Linked DNA regions of Homo sapiens: all the other regions are linked to region 3. The links come from fine-mapping of genetic effects on gene expression. A gene starts in region 3. Each other region holds a variant in brackets. All regions are shown on one strand. Distances are between the middles of the regions. Region 1 has its middle 35 kb from the start of DOK2. Region 2 has its middle 3.3 kb from the start of NPM2. Region 3 holds the start of XPO7 (exportin 7). Region 4 overlaps NPM2 (nucleophosmin/nucleoplasmin 2).

What was found.
Region 1: its variant is fine-mapped to the expression of XPO7 in whole blood (TOPMed, PIP 0.96).
Region 2: its variant is fine-mapped to the expression of XPO7 in whole blood (TOPMed, PIP above 0.99).
Region 4: its variant is fine-mapped to the expression of XPO7 in whole blood (INTERVAL, PIP above 0.99).

What each region holds. Positions count from the first base shown.
Region 1 is chr8:21,877,671-21,880,355 of GRCh38, forward strand. No RefSeq gene overlaps it. Among named protein-coding and RNA genes, the nearest start is that of DOK2, 35 kb to the right of the region's middle. The variant G/T (reference allele first, on the strand shown) is at 1,423.
Region 2 is chr8:22,019,480-22,022,164 of GRCh38, forward strand. No RefSeq gene overlaps it. Among named protein-coding and RNA genes, the nearest start is that of NPM2, 3.3 kb to the right of the region's middle. The variant C/T (reference allele first, on the strand shown) is at 1,617.
Region 3 is chr8:21,918,202-21,920,886 of GRCh38, forward strand. XPO7 (exportin 7) reads left to right here and starts at 1,461. Exons shown (of 28, transcript NM_015024.5): 1 at 1,461-1,587. The coding sequence starts at 1,570. RefSeq lists a silencer at 1,378-1,817.
Region 4 is chr8:22,027,377-22,030,061 of GRCh38, forward strand. All of the region lies in intron 5 of NPM2 (nucleophosmin/nucleoplasmin 2), which reads left to right. Among named protein-coding and RNA genes, the nearest start is that of NPM2, 4.6 kb to the left of the region's middle. The variant A/AT (reference allele first, on the strand shown) is at 1,109.

The sequences.
Region 1 (2,685 bases), 41 kb before region 3:
CATGCCCTCAAAGGAAGACCTTTGCCATCCAGTTATCCAGTGGGGGTAGTCCATTTCTCTTTCTCTGTTGAAGGAGAGGTGGCCTCCAGTGTGTAGGATTTCTCTGTTGAGAAGTACTTACAGGACCTGTCATTTTCAGGTCCTAGGCAATTTAGATGTCCAGAAAATCCTCCCAGTAAGGATTCATTAATTTTGAAATTCAAAATAAATGAATTTCGGAAATGCATAGCTGAGCTAGTAGAAAAGTAAGAAAAATCTTCAAAGGTCAAAAATCATTGCAAAGCCCAATCCCAGGAGGTAAGTGCCCAGTGAGGCCTGTGGTTGGGTGAGAGGCGATTGGATGATCCCTGTTGACCTGGAGCTTGGCTTTTAATATGGATTAACATGAAGGGAAGGGATTCAGAAGACAAAACCTGGAGAGAAAGATGAGAGACTGAAGAGAGAATTTTTTGTCTCACAATCAAAAATTACAGGACACAGCAGGCAGAAAATGAGAAGTGCCTACAGGGAAAAACCAAAGGGAAGAAGTTGCTGAAGTCAATCCTGAGAAATGAGAGTATAAGTAGCAATTAACAGTCACAGGACACTAACTGTGAGCTTGACCTGTGCTAAAGGCTTTACATAAACATATCTCTGTAACTTTTAACTGCACGTGAAACTAATCAATCACTGACTGGCTTAGCAATAAGCCTAAAATATCAGAATCGGAAAGGGCATTATCGACCACTTAATCTATTGTTTTTCAAACTGCAAGTCTTGCAACTTTTGGTTCAATAGATAGATTAGCATATAAATAATATGCATGGCCGGGCGCGGTGGCCCACGCCTGTAATCCCAGCACTTTGGGAGGCCGAGGCAGACAGATCACGAGGTCAAGAGATCGAGAACATCCTGGTCAACATGGTGAAACCCCGTCTCCACCAAAAATACAAAAATTAGCTGGGTGTGGTGGCGCGCACCTGTAGTCCCAGCTACTCGGGAGCCTGATGCAGGAGAATTGCTTGAATCTGGGAGGCGGAGGGTGCAGTGAGCCGAGATTATGCCACTGCACTCCAGCCTGCCAATAGAGCAAGACTCTGTCTCAAAAAAAAATAAAAATAAAAATAAATAAATAATATCCACACAAATATATATGCATAAATCTCTATGTGTGTATGTATATACACAAATGTATATGTGTATATATCCATATATACATGTACAAATATGAATGTATGTACTAGGTCCCAATGTAAAACACATGTCTCACTACAGATCAAAGTAAAAAATCAAATGCCAGCCAGGCGTGGTGGCTCACACCTATATTCCCAACACTCTGGGAAGCTGAGGTGGGTGGATCATTTGGGGTCAGGAGTTCAAGACCAGCCTGGACAACATGGTGAAACTTTGTCTCTACTAAAAATACAAAAATTAGCTGGGTGT[G/T]GTGGCACACGCCCATAATCCCAGTTACTGAGGAGACAGAGGCAGGAAAATCGCTTGAACCAGAGAGGTGGAGGTTGCAGTGAGCCGAGATCCTGCCACTGCTCTCCAGCCTGGGCTGTGACAGAGAGAGACTCTGTCTCAAAAAAATTAATAAATAAAAAGTTAATGAATTAATTAAAATTTAAAAACCAAATGCCTAGGAAGCATTGATAAAACCCCAAGCCATCAATGTCTTTTTTTTTTTTTTTTTTTGAGACGGGGTCTCGCTCTGTCGCCCAGCTGGAGTGCAGTGGCACAATCTCGGCTCACTGCAAGTTCCGTCTCCCGGGTTCACGCCATTCTCCCGCCTCAGCCTCCCGAGTAGCTGGGACTACAGGCGCCCACCACCACACCCAGCTAATTTTGTTTTTGTATTTTTAGTAGAGACAGGGTTTCACTGTGTTAGCCAGGATGGTCTCAATCTCCGGACCTCGTGATCTGCCTGCCTCGGCCTCCCAAAGTGCTGGGATTACAGGCATGGGCCACCGCGCCCGGCCCCATCAATATTTTTGTGGGAAACTGAGGCCCACAGAGAGTGCAACCAAAGTTGGTCACCTGGTTAGACCAGAGTCCAGATGATTGCCATTTCTCTCATGGTGGTAAGGTGGCACTGTGAGTCTTTACCATGCACAGCTCTGGGCCAGGATGCTCCCTCTGTGCCTCTTGTCAGGGAGGAGGGAAACCACAGAGTGAGTCTGGATCTGTACAAAACTGAGCATTAGACAGTTTGCTTTCAGTGCCTCCAACCCCGCAGTAGGGCCTTCTCCTTGCCCACCCCTTCTGCAGAAGCACCCACTACCCTCCGCTGTCTCTACTCTCCCACTACCAAGGCCTGGCATCAGGAAAGGATTTAGTAACCTTCTGCACACAAAGCTGGAAATTACTCCCATGCTATCTTTTCCATGATTATTTGGTCTTGTCGTGAAGGACTGAAAGTTTCAGCCAAAGACAAGAATTTCTCATTATGGAGTTTTTCCCTGGCTTCAGAAAACCAGCAGAGAAGGCATTTAGGCCCACAGTGGAGGAAACATGGGTGATCCTAGTGGGTGACGCAGGGGTTGGCCTTAGTCTTCTCTTATAATCCCCTCTTCTTTGACATGGAATCCTCTGGCCCTCTTACTTGCAAGGTTGATAAAGATAATAACAGATAAGATTGTGAATCTGAGGCCAGGCACAGTGGCTCACGCCTATAATCCCAGGGCTTTGGGAGGCCTAGGCAGGTGG
Region 2 (2,685 bases), 100 kb after region 3:
ACCCAGCACTCTGGGAGGCTGAGGCAGGTGGATCACCTTAGGTCAGGAGTTCAAGACCAGCCTGACCAGCATGGAGAAACCCCATCTCTCCTAAAAATACAAAATTAGCCAGGTGTGGTGGCACATGCCTGTAATCCCAGCTACTCCGGAGGCTGAGGCAGGAGAATTGCTTGAGCCCGGGAGGTGGAGATTGTGGTGAGCCGAGATCGTGCCATTGCACTCCAGCCTGGGCAACAAGAGCAAAATTCCATCTCAGAAAATAAATAAATAAATAAACAAATAAAACAAAACAATAAAATAAAAAGAAATTGGAAAAGAAGAAGTCAAATTGTCTCTCTTTGCAGACATGATCTTATGTATAGAAAAGCCTAAACAATCCACTGAAAAAACTCCTAGAACTGATAAACAAATTCAGTGAAGTTGCAAGATACAAAAATCAACATATGAAAATCAGTAGCATTTCTATACACCAATAATAAAATAGAAAAGAAATCAAGAAAGTGATCCCATTTACAAGAGCTACAAAAAATAAAGTCCCAAGGAATAAAAGTTAGCCAAGGAAGTGAAGGACCTCTACAACAAAAACTACAAAACACTGATGAAGGAAATTGGAAAGGTCACAAAAAAGTGGAAAGACATCCCATGCTCATGGATTGGAAAAATTAATATTGTTAAAATGGCCATACTACGGCTAGGCACGATGATTCGTGCCTATAATCCCAGCACTGTGGGAGGCCTAGGAGGGAGGATCACTTGAGCCTAGGAGTTCAAGACAAGCCTGAGCAACATAACGAGACACAACAAAAAAATTTTAAAAATTAGCCAGGCATGGTGGTACACACCTTGCAGTCCCAGCTACTCAGGAGGCTGAGGCAGGAGGATTGCTTGAGCCCAGGAGTTCAAGGTTACAGTGAGCTATGATTGTGCCTCTGCACTCCAGCCTGGGCAACAGAGCGAGACCCTGCCTGAAAAATAAATAAATAAATTTTTAAAATAAGAAATAAAAATAAAATTAAATTTAAAAGGCCATACTACCCAAAGCAATCTACAGATTCAGCGCAATCCCTATCAAAATAGCAACGACACTCTTCACAGAAACAGAAAAAACAATCCTAAAATTTGTATAGAATCACAAAAGACTCCAAATAGCCAAAGCAATACTAAGCAAAAAGAATAGAGCTGGAGGCATCACCCTACCTGAGTTCGAAATATACTACAGGGTGGGCAAGCACATGCCTGTAATCCCAACACTTTTGGAGGCCAACGTGGGTGGATCACTTGAGCAGAGGAGTTTGAGACCAGCCTGGACAACATGGAGAAACCCCATCTCTACCAAAAAAAAAATAGTAGCCAGGCATTATGGCACACACCTATAGTCCCAGCTACTTCAGAGGCTGAGGTGGGAGAATCACTTGAGTCCAGGAGGTGGAGGCTGCAGTGAGCTGAAATTGCTACTGTACTCCAACCTGGGACATAGAGCAAGACCCTGCCCCAAATATAAATATAAATATTATACACTACAAAGCTATAGTAACAAAACAGCATGGTATTGGTATAAAAACAGACACAGACCAATGGAAAAAAATGGAGAACCCAGAAATAAATCTATGTACTTA[C/T]CACAAACTGATTTTTTGACAAAGGCACCAAGAACATACACTGGGAAAAGGACATCTTCTTTAATAAATGGTGCTGGGAAAACTGGATATTGATAAGAAGAAGAAAAGTAGACCCCATCTGTCATCACATACAAAAATCAATTCAAAATGGATTAAAGACTTAAACATAAGGCCTGAAACTATAAAACTACTAGAAGAAATCCTAGGGGAAATGCTTCAGGACATGGGTCTAGGCAAAGATTTTATGGCTAAGACTTCAAAAGCACAGGCAACAAAAACAAAAATAGACAAATAAGACTATATTAAACCAAAAACGTCTGCACCGCAAAGAAACAGTCAACAGAGTTAAGAGACAACCTGCAGAATGGGAGAAAATATTTGCAAATTATTCATCTAACAAGGGACTAATATCCAGAATATACAAGGAATACAAATGACTCAACAGCAAAAAACAAACATAATATTAAGTGGGCAAAGGACATGAATAGACATTTCTCAAAAGAAAACAAATGGCCAACAGGCATACGAAAAAATGCTCAGCTGGGTGCAGTGGCTCACACCTGTAGTCCCAACACTTTGGGAGGCTGAGGTGGGCGGATCACAAGGTCAAGAGATCGAGACCATCCTGGCCAACAGGGTGAAACCCAGTCCCTACTAAAAATACAAAAATTAGCTGGGCATGGTGGCAAGCACCTGTAGTCACAGCTACTCGGGAGGCTGAGGCAGAATTGCTTGAACCCATGAAGCAGAGGTTGCAGTGAGTCAAGATCATACCACTGCTCTCCAGCCTGGTGACAGAGCGGGACTCCGTCTCAAAAAAAAAAAAAAAAAAAAAAAAAAAAAAAAAAAAAAAAGCTCAACATCACTAATCATCAGAGAAATGCAAATCAAAACCACAATGAGATATCATCTCACCTCAGTTAGAATGGCTGTTATCAAAAAGACAAATGCTGGCGAGGATGTGCAGAAAAGGGAACTCATACACTGTTGTTGGGAATTAAGTTAATACAGCCATTATGGAAAGTAGTATGGAGGTTTCTCAAAAAACTAAAAATTGAACTATCACATG
Region 3 (2,685 bases):
GAATCCAAAGAATTTCCATTGCAATTGTGACTCTGAGAATATTTCATTGCCCGATGCCAGGTTCAGAAAGCCACTGACCCCATCACCCCGCCTCTTTATACGCTCGGAGCTAATGATTGGACGCTGGGAGGTTTTGGGGAAAAACAAAAACCCAACATCTGAAAAGGTCTATGCTCGCTAGAAGTTAACAGTCAAAAGCTCTGCCACTTAAATCTTCTGCCTCTTAAATCTTCTCTGAGTCAGCCTAATTGGCAGAGCCTAATTTGCATACAGAACCCTAGCTGCAAGGAAGTTTGGGTAATGTAGTTTCCAGGTGCCCTACCTCTGCAAACCAGGAAGACCTACTAGGAGGACGGAAGTCGAAATGAATGCTGAGCACCGGTCCACTACATCCACCAAGGGTGTGTAATTCACTACCACCATCATTTGCATATGATGGTAGTCCCCTGTAAATACAAACTTCAAACAATCAGTGCTCTCAGAATCCAGCTATGATCTAACCTGGGGGCCTTAAAAGGAAGCCACAGTGGAATCCAATGGAAAACAGGAACCGGCATTATCTAACAGATAATTCCTAGTGAGGAAGACTGGAATTGGCCTCAGCATGCAGGGGCTGACCTTATCTGACCCAGAGAGATGGCTTTCCCACTCATACCTCCACAAGACCGAGCCTAGGGGTCCTAACCACCAGCCCCGCTGCCTCTTCCAGCATCTGACCCTCTCGGGAGGCAGTCTAGAGTATTGGCAACGAGGACAATGTCTTTGGGAAGCCAGAACTGTGCCTTCGTATGTTTTGATCATCACCACCATTCGGTGGTTATTTCCATGAATGTTTATCAAGGACGAAAGGACAGAAATGAAAAACACGAGATCAACCACTGGGGTTGCTGGTGAAATCCAGACCAGAGAGCGATGGCCCTGGTCCAGAAAGCTAGACAGACACAAGCACAGAATCGGCCCCCGTTGAGTAGAGGGCATTGGAAAGTAAGGAATCTCGCAGGCAGCCTAGGTGGGGTGTGGGGGGTCCCCGTAGCTGCAGGGTGGGGTGGGGGTGGGGGTGGGAGACGTCCAGGGGCGAGTCAAGGGGGAAGACGGTTGGGAAGAGAGGAAGCCACTGGGTGCAGGGGTCCCGGGGCGGCGACAGACCTCGGCCCCCATCCAGGAGCCCTCACCACGCAAACGAGCAGAAGGCAGCGCCAACTCCCACTCCAGCGCCCGCCTGCCGGAGCGAGCGCGGCCCCTTTAAAAACCATGTAAACAAAGCTTTGTTCCCCCAGCTGCCCCTCCTTCGCGCTCCCCCGGCCCGCTCCTTCCTCCCACCCGGCGTCTCCGGGCCGCTGACGTTGCCCGCGCCTTTACGCCGTCCCAGCGGTGCTGCGCATTCTCCAACCACGGCCCGGGCCGCCGGGGCCTGCGCAGCTGAGCGGCGCTACGCCACGAGCGCAGCGCGACGAGTCCCCAGCGCGCAGGCGCAGCGGCGACGGCGTCGGCGGCGGCGGCGGCAGCGGCTCCGGCCGAGGTGCGCGCTGGGGGGGAGGGGGGGCCGGAGAGGAGCATGAATGGAGCAAAATGGCGGATCATGTGCAGGTGAGAGGAGCCGCGGGGGGGAGGGGGCGACCACGAAGAGCGGCGAGTGGAGTCGGGGGTGCACACGGCCCACAGGGCGCCAGCCGGCTCGGGACTCGGCAGGCCCGCGCCGCCGCCACTCGGGGCTCTGGAGCCGCCGCCCGTCCCGGAGCCCCGGGGCCTTTCCCGCCTCCCGGGCCGGGGGCCTTCTCCGTCCCCTCCCACCCGGTCCCACACCTCGCGCGCGGGGCTGCAGGGACAGGAACGGGCATCCCGGCGCGCGCAGCCCACAACGTTCGTCAGTCACTGTCTTCGTCCCCGGGGGAGGCCTCCGTCAAGTCCTCGGGCCCCCCCGCCCGCCCCCCGGTGAAGCGAGGGGGACCCCCTTGCTGACTTTACTGAGGGGGACGCCCCCATGACGCCCGCCATCCCTCAGCAGATAACAAAAAGGAAACCTCGCGCTGATAAACCTCGCTCTCCGGAGTCTTTCCCGCCGCCTTCCTCTCACGCCCCGGAATACGAGAGACCCCCCAGCAACCCCGGCCTCCTTCCCCCTCCCACGGATGCGCCCTTCCCTCCGACACTCCAAATCGTACAGCCCGGAGGGCCGAGCTCCCCGGTCTTCCAAAATGGGTGCTCAGGCCTCGGCCCGCCTCCCCTCGCGTCCCCCTAGCCACAGTGAAGGAGTTGAGCGCCCACACCTCCTATGAAACACGGGGTGGAGGGGGGTGTGTCTGAAATGAGAGATGCAGGGTTGGGTGCAGACGTTGCTCGGGAGGGTCTTGATCCGGCTCAAGAGCTGCTCCTAGCGTGCTGTGGGGCCAGGCCACTCTCCTCAAAGACAGGCACAGGCCCTAGAAAGGGACAGCCCATACCAAACCCAGTAGCAGATGGAGGACTGCAGGGTTTAATTTCTTGCAAACTAGATAAAGTTTTTCCTGTCTGTGCCAGAGATCTGATATTTTTATGACAGTTATTGATGCACATCCATTGTGGGGAACCTTCCAATTTTCTAGGTAACCAAGTGCACAGGTTTTGTGTTGTGGCAAGGAAAGATTAGAGGGCAAGAAGTGTCGCCTTTATATTCTGTGGCATCATTCCTCAAGTAAGAAGAATGAT
Region 4 (2,685 bases), 110 kb after region 3:
CATCTAAACAAATGAAGACTCAGGAACTTATTTCTGTAAACTCAACCTCTCTTGAGCTCCAAGTCCTATATCCAACTAAATGGCTTTGATAGATATCTAATAAATATCCCAAATTTAACATGTCTAAATCCACATATTCAATTTTTATCTCTAATCCACCCGCCTCCCCTTCAACCTGATTTTCTCTCAGAAAACAGCTGTTTTTCCAGTTAGCCAAGACAAAGCTCTTTTTTTTTTTTTTTCCCCTGAGATGGAGTTTCACTCTTATCACCCAGGCTGGAGTGCAATGGTGCGCTCTCGGCTCACTGCAACCTCCGCATCCCATGTTCGAGTGATTCTCCCATCTCAGCCTCCCAAGTAGCTGGGATTACAGGCATGTTCCACTACGCCAGGCTAATTTTTGTAATTTTAGTAGAGATGGGTTTTTGCCATGTTGGTCAGGCTGGTCTCGAACTCCTGACCTCAGGTGATATACCCGCCTTGGCCTCCCAAAGTGCTGGATTTACAGGCATGAGCCACCACACCCAGCCAAATCCTCTTTTTTCCCACACCCATATCTGATCTACCAGCAGTCCTGTTGTCTCTGCCCCCATCTTATACCCCAATGGACCACATCTCATCATCTTCCCTGCTACCCCTGGTACAGGTGACAGTTGCCTGTGGCTCCATTTTAATTGCACAGCCTTCCACCTGGTCTACCTACCATCACATGGTCCCCTGTAGTCTATTCCAGGGTAGGCAAACTAGAGGGCTTGAATCTAGGCTGCTGCCTGGTTTTGTAAGTAGTTTTACTGGGAACACAGCCACACTCATTCGTTTGTACCCTGTCCATGGCTGCTTTTCCTCCCTAACAGCAGATTTGAGTAGTCTCCATGGAGACCATATGGTTTGCAAACCTAAAATATTACCTTCTGGCTCTTAACAGAAAGTTTCCTGGTCTGTGCTCCACACAGCTGCCAAAAAGATTTTTTTTTTTTTTTTTTTTTTTTTTTGAGACAGAATCTTGCTTTGATACCAGGGCTGGAATGCAGTGGCTTAATCTCGGCTCACTGCAACCTCCACCTCCTTAGTAGCCGGGACAACAGGCGCTCCCCACCATGCCCAGCTG[A/AT]TTTTTTTTTTTTTTTGTAATTTTTAGTAGAGACGGGGTTTCACCATGTTGGCCAGGCTGGTCTTGAACTTCTGACTTCAAGTGATCCACCTGCCTCAGCCTCCCAAAGTGCTGAGATTATAGGCGTGAGCCACTATGCCCAGCCAAAAAGATCCTTTTAAACACAGGTTAGATCATGTGGCTTCTCTGCTAGAATAGTTAGGTCATGGCTCTCTCTCATTTGGAATAAGAGCCGAGAGTGTATTATGGCCTGCTTCGAAGCCTTTGTGTTCTGGCCTCAGCAACCTCTCTGTTTCAGGTGTGTTTTATGTCTTATGTTCCAGGTATGTATCTTTTACACAGTATGTAGCTAGATTTTGTTCTATCTGGCCAGTATAGTCTGTATTCATTGTGATTGCTGATGTAATTGGATTTGTGGCATGTACTTTGTACCCCTACTTTCCTTGCTTTTTTATTTTCTTCTCCTTTTCCTATATTTTATTAGATTAATTAAAGTTCCTTTTCCCCTTCTCTACTGGTTTGGAAGTTATAGAATCTCATTCTAATTTTTTTACTGTTTATCTTTAATTTTTTTAACAATCATACATTACTCAAAGTTTAGAATTAATGTTTTATGTCCTCCCAGACAATCCAAGGAGCTTTTCTGATTCTCCTTTTTTTATTTTTTTATTTTCGAAATGGAGTCTCACTTTGTTTCCCAGGCTAGAGTGCAGTGGTGCAATCTTGACTCACTGCAACCTCTGCTTCCCAGGTGATTCAAGTGATTCTCCTGCCTCAGCCTCCCAAGTAGCTGGGATTACAGGTATGCACCATCATGCCCAGCTAATTTTTGTATTTTTAGTAGAGACAGGGATTCACCACGTTGGCCAGGCTGGTCTTGAACTCCTGAGCTCAGGTGATCCTCCTGCCTTGGCCTCCCAAAGTGCTGGAATTATAGGTGTGAGCTACCGCACCTGGCCTGATTCTCATCTTTTTAACTTCAATATTATTATCAAGTGTTCTAGCTCCAACTTGTCAGCCTACTCAACACTACTCATTACTAGTACTATTGTATTTTCCAGTTAATTCTTATGTAGGTTTACTTTGTTTACCAATTAGTTTGGTTACCACTGCTTCTAGCACCCACTTCTTCCTTCTTGATCTAATTTCTTATCCTTTTTAGCAACATACTTTAGTAAGCCTGAGAATAGTAAACTTATTCAGGCTTTGTCTGGAAATATCATGATTTTGCCCTCATTCCTTCATGATGGTTTGGCTGTGTATATAATTCTAGATAGAGAGTTTCCTTCAGCTTTGAAGCTGTTCTATTCTGGTTCCCAATGTTGCTGTTGAAGTCCTCAATCTGTCTGATTATTCCCTTTTTGGAGATGTCTTTCCTCTCTGGCTTATTTTAAGATAATGTCTTTTGTTTTTATTTTCTATAGTTTTACCATGATGTGTTCAGGTGTAGATTTATTTTTTTTGTCTGTTCAGGACTTAGGTTTTCAGACATGAGGATCTATGTCTTTGATCAATTCTGGAAAATTATTGGTTGTTTTTCCTTTGAATATTGACTGTCTTCCAGTCTCCCTAGTCCC